2 separate regions of the Homo sapiens genome follow, and region 1 is linked to region 2. Evidence: fine-mapped expression QTL. Tissue or cell type: skeletal muscle. Region 2 holds a variant in brackets; the other region holds the start of a gene. All regions are shown on one strand. Distances are between the middles of the regions. Region 1 holds the start of TFG (trafficking from ER to golgi regulator). Region 2 overlaps TFG (trafficking from ER to golgi regulator).

Evidence for each region. PIP is the estimated chance that this variant, and not a neighbour inherited with it, causes the effect. A credible set is the group of variants that fine-mapping cannot tell apart.
Region 1: TFG starts here. The variant in region 2 is the best candidate, but not a certain one, in a credible set for the expression of TFG in skeletal muscle (GTEx, PIP 0.54).

What each region holds. Positions count from the first base shown.
Region 1 is chr3:100,708,123-100,711,039 of GRCh38, forward strand. TFG (trafficking from ER to golgi regulator) reads left to right here and starts at 1,372. Exons shown (of 8, transcript NM_006070.6): 1 at 1,372-1,599. RefSeq lists enhancers at 940-1,831, 1,832-2,722 and a silencer at 1,469-1,698.
Region 2 is chr3:100,737,799-100,740,715 of GRCh38, forward strand. All of the region lies in intron 6 of TFG (trafficking from ER to golgi regulator), which reads left to right. Among named protein-coding and RNA genes, the nearest start is that of TFG, 30 kb to the left of the region's middle. RefSeq lists an enhancer at 1-286. The variant G/A (reference allele first, on the strand shown) is at 1,618.

The DNA of each region.
Region 1 (2,917 bases), 30 kb before region 2:
CCTAGCTTAACAGACAAGATTGAAAACCTAACTTAGAAGTATGCGTCTCTTACAATAAGCGAGTCTTGGCCAATTCCAGCCGCCACACTTCAATCACTCATAGACTGCTAAGTGTTCAAATAAGGCCAACGCCAACCTGTAACCAATCCAGCTGTTTCTGTACTTCACTGCCAATTTCTGTACCTCATTTCCCTTTTTTTGTCTATAAATCTTCCACCACGTGGCTCTGCTGGAGTCTCTTAATCTGCTGTGATTCTGGGGGCTGCCCAATTCGTGAAATCGTTCACTGCTCAATTAAACTCCTTTAAATTTAATTCAGCTTAAGTTTTTCTTTTATAACTGGTAAACAACTGGAGACCAGGTAGGGTCTAAATGCTTTATTTATCAGCTTAGTCTCCACCTTAGAAGTGACAAACATTCTCCGTTTGGCCAAACTTCGGGCTCCTGGGCCTTCTCCTAGGACCATCTGTGCATCTTCTTGTAAAACTCAGTTTCAGCAAAGAACCTTGTTAAGGCAGTGTAGTGAGAATCCCTCACCCTTGATGGGGTTCCTCATCCTCCACCACCCCCAGGTGATGTCTGCTATCCTGGCCTATCTTCGTCTAGAATCCTGTTGTGTTGGTTTAGCCAGAATCTCCCTTGCCCCTGATATTTCCTCTTAGTAATTTTCCATCCACTGACCGACTTCCACCCCTTGGCTATAAATTCCTACTTACTCATACTGTATTTCTATTTGAACAGGTAAGGGAGAAGGGAAGAGTACGTAGGACACACTCAAATGCCTTATCCTCTAAAAATCACTCAGGAATCTTTAGCCTTAATTTCCCAGCTTTTGTCCTTTACACAGTTACAGATTTTCCTTGCTCATAAACGCTGTAGGTCTTCCCTGCTTAATTGGAAACTCCTTGCTCACAAAATGATTCACCCCCATTCCTAGAACCGGGCTTGGCAAAGCATAGGCTCCCAATAATGAATGAATGGATTTATAGAAGAAAAGGTTTTTTCTTTTTCAGCTGTTACTACAATGGTCAACAATAACGACAAAAACCACTTAAAGTTGGACAGACGTCTACTGCAACCAACTCTCAAAAAGTTTAGAACAGCGCACTACGCCCCGCCCATTGGCGAGAAACGGAAATACCCGCTTTCGAGAAAACCGGAAGTGCGTGGTCACGCCCCGCGCATGCGTGCATCGGGGCAGCTCACGCTTCCTAAATCCCGTCATCCAGTGAGAAAGCAGGGACTCTTCGGCCTAGGCAGCCGGGACCCAGCCAGCCCTGCGCCTCGCGCCGTCGCGCATGCGTCCTGGGTATGTCCACGCGCAATAAGGAGGGGCGAAAGGACATTTTTTTTTTTCTTGCTCCCGCCTCTGTTCTTCCCCCACCTGCCACGTACAGAGCCCAAGTTCTCGCTAGGCTTGTTGGGTCAGCGCGATTGGCCGGGGCCCGCGCGAGCCTGCGAGCGAGGTGCGGCGGTCGCGAAGGGCAACCGAGGGGGCCGTGACCACCGCCTCCCCGCGACGCCCCAGTCCAGTGGCCTCGCGTCCGCCCATTCAGCGGAGACCTGCGGAGAGGCGGCGGCCGCGGCCTCCGCAAGCCGGTATGGCCACTGGAGACGGGGGTTGCGGGCGCTCTGTCCGAGGAGGCCGGGAGACTAGGAGGCGCTGGGAGGGCCTCGTTCGAACCGCGCGGCAGCTGGGGTCGGAGGCACTGTGGGAAGGGGCTGGAGGGAGGAGGGGGTGGGAGGGAGGAGGGGGTGGGAGGGAGGACGAGGCCGGGGGGGAGGGCGGGCGGGGCCTTGCATGGGGGGAGGGGAAGGGAGGTCGCGGAGGGGGAGGGGAGAGAGGCAACCCCTGGCTGCGGTGGCCAGGAGGCGCGCCTGGGGGGCTCCGGGAGGGGAGTGCGCCAGCTAATGCCTTGGTGCAGCCTGCCTCCAAGCGTTTGGATTGAGAGGAGAGGGGCTTTGGGAGGTTTGGGGCGGCCGGCGCCCAATACCCGAAGGAGCTCGGAAGGGTGTGGAGTGGCGCCTACGGGAATAAGTTGATTGGGGTCATAGAATCGGAGCCTAGTTCCTTGGCTAAGTCAGCGCTTAATCAAGCGCCGGCTGGAGGCCCAGCCTGGTTTATAGTGATGATTCTAGCTAACTTTAAGAGTTTGCTTTGCTGGACACTACAGTAAGTATTTTGGATGCACTGTCTCATTTAATCATCACAAGGATTCCTCCAAATTCAGATATGGTTGTTTTCATTTCGAATGTGATGAAAGTGAGCCTTGGAGGACTTAAGATCACATAGCTAGTAGTGAGAATCTTTACCGTCTTGCTGCACTGCCTTTGAGGCAGGGTTTGAGGCCTCTTGGCATTCTTTAGAATAATTACAGGTTGACTTGGCTTAGTATTTCTTGAAGGAAACTGCTCCCCTCAGGAGGTGCTTAAGCCACAGCCTCTGAAATTGAGCAGGGTCTTACCCTTAGAGGTAGTAGAACCAGAAGTTTGTCCGCCGAACCTAGAACCTGGTTCAGGAGGCAGGCTTTTTATATGACCTTGGGCGTGTCAGATTATTCCCAGTGCTGAGAAAAGTGTACCTGGTAGAGGGTTATATTATACAAGTTAGAAGCCGAGTCATTTCTGGACTTCAGAGGGGGCGGGGCAAGGACAAGATGGGAGAAGAGCTTGTCGTAGGGCTCCTACTGGCAGTTCTAGGAACTAGTTAATACCAGTCTCTACTTTGGAAGAGAAAATGAGTACCAGAATTCTGTATGTGAAGTAATGTTGGGTTGGGATTTCCCCTTGAAGGGAAAGTTTTGTTGCACACTTACTTTTGAGATACTTTTGTGTTTACTCTGGGGAGATGACTGCAAGAGCAAACGACAGCTTTAGGAAAGAAGCACTGGTTCCTGGCCACAAGATGTTTACAGTC
Region 2 (2,917 bases):
AGCACTTTGGGAGGCCGAGCCAGGAGGATCACTTGAGCCCAGGAGTTTGAGACTAGGCTGGGTGACATAGTGAGACCCTGTCCCTACAAAATAAAAAAAGATTTAAAAAAATTAGCCAGGTGCTATGGCATGTGCCTATAGTTCCAGCTACTTGGGAAGCTGAAGTGGGAGGATTGTTTGCATTGTTGAATTGAAGTGGGTGGTCTAGGCTGCAGTGAGCTGTATCACTCCACTGCACTCCAGCCTGGGCAACAGAACGAGACCCTGTCTCAAAAACAAACAAAGCCAAAAAAAAAAAAATCCACAGAGTTGTCTGTTGGATGAACACCAGTCATTATGGACTAGCAGGTGACATTTTGCTGATGAATCAGTGGTTTGCGAAGAATTTCTTATTGCTTAAGCCTTTTCTCAACCAACTTTAATTAACTCCTCCTCTGCACCAAAATGCTACTGCCAAAACTAGAACAAACTAGAACTAAAGCAGATGTCAGCTGAAATGGACAAAAGCAGAGTATAGGTATGATGAGAGTTTAATGCCTACATCAAGCGAACTAAAGATTTGTTTTTAAATAAATCCCATTTTAAGCAGTGTATACTGTGATACAATGACAGTTGGAAGGATCATTGTACCAAATAATGTTTGCTGTTTATGTATAAATAAATGGGAATTAAGGCGCTACTAGCAATATCTAAACATTCTATGAAGTGTTTAATTGAGCATTTTCAAATAAGTAAAATTTTAAAAATGCGAAAGGACATACAGTGAAAATTCTCTCTCCCACCTCTGTCCACAGCAACCAAATTCCTTTTTTCAGAGGTAGCAGATTAACACTGTTTATATGCATTTAATTTTTAGAGTAGTATTGTATGCCTTGCTGCAATTAACTGTTAGCTTACATTAAAACATACAGTATGAAAATTGTACAATTAATATGTGACATCATTTAAACTATTAATAACTGATCTAATTCTAGATCAGTGCTGTCCAAAAGAATTACGATAGAAGCCACATGTAGTTTTTCTATTTAGCAGCATTAGAAAAATGTTTAAGAAAAGGTAAAATTAATTTTATTTAGCCTAATGTATCCAACGTGTACTCACTATTAAAAAGTTAATTTTTTTGGTACTGTGTATTGGAAGTCTGGGATTTGACACTGATTTGGAACACTTCAAACAACAAACAACATATCACATTTCAAACAAGCCACATTTCAGGTGCTCAATAGCCACATGTAGCTAGTGATTATTTTAAGAGCACAGCTTTAGATAAATATAGTCGTTATTTATAGATTCCCAGCATGAATTATAGGCTACTTTTACTTTTTGTTGTATAATGAGTCTTTGACATTGTCAGTTATTTAGATCAACTACTGGTTATAATTTGAGCAGAATTACCAACATAAAATGTATTACTTATAATTTGTTAACATAGCAATCTCTTACAATGTGTTAATAGTCCATACTAAAATTAAGAATTCTGAGTTGTTACTTAACTCCCATAAAAGGGACTTTGGAACTGTGAATTTTATTCCAAATAAATGTAGTCTTAATATGTTTTTCAGTTAAAAGGATCAACAAGATATTGAGCATCATTAAAAAAAAACCAAAAGGGATAAT[G/A]TTACTCTTTTTCATATAAAGCCAGTGCCTGTTACAGGAAGACTATGTGATGTTGCCAGAAATGTAACTGGTAAGGAGAAGAACGCTAAAAATCATCAGAGATCGGGAGATATTGCTGTTTGACAGCCTAAAAAAATGAAAAAGCATATAATTAAAATCTTTAAAATCATATGCCAATATAATGAAAAGCTGAGTAGCCTTTATTATGTAAATATTGAAACATACATAGAATAATCAACTCTTCATGTAGTCATGTGGCTTCAACACTTACCAATATTTTGGCATTCTTTTTTCATCATTTTTTCCCCACTGCACCCCTTTTAATTTGCTGGAGTAGTTTAAATCAAATTATGAACAGCTTATTATACTCAGGTATTTCAGTATATATGTCCAACTGATAATCTTCTTTTTAATATAACCACCATGCTGTTACTTAACAGTGATTCTTTTTATTTTTAATTGTGACAGGGTGTCACTCTGTTGCCCAGGTTGGAGTGTACTGGCTTGATTACAGCTCACCTGCAACCTCAACAGTGATTCTTAATGTCAACGTGTGCTAGTCTGTGTTTGAATTTCCCTAATTGTTTCAAGATTCGTTTGTTAAATTGACTTGTTCAAATGAGGGGCCTAACAAGGTTCACACTTTGCATTGTTAATGTGTCTTGAGTCGTTTTTTCTAATAGCCATTAGAAAAAACTTACATGTTTCTAAAATCCCTTACATGTTTCTAAAATCAAAACTATGTGTATTATTTATTACTGTGTAACTATTATCCCAAAACATAGATACTTAGACAACAAAAGTTAATTATCTCATACAGTTTTAGACAGATATCCCGGAATGGTTTAGCTGGGTGATTTTGGCTCAGCATCTCTCATGAGGTTGCAGTTAAAAATGGCTGCTGGGGTTATAGTCATCTGAAGCTTAACCAGAGCTGGAGGATTCAGTTCTTTACCATTTGGACTTCTCCATGGGGCTGCTTGGGTGACCTCATGACATGACAGCTTCACCAGAATGAGTAATCAGAAGAGAGTGAGGTAGAAGATAACCTTTTATAGCCTGTCCTCAGAAATGTCACTGTCATTTCTGCAATATTTTCTTGGTATACAGGTCAGCCCTATTCAGTATGTGAGGGACTAACAGGGAGCAGATACTCATGTGCTTGTTGCTTATTTGGTCATTTTTGTATTGTGGAGTTAAATCTTTCTAATTTCTAAGAATATAAACGATACCAACCCATTGTCATAAATGCTATACATGTGCAGAAGCCGTTGAGGGTCATGATAGAGGTTGGCTACTC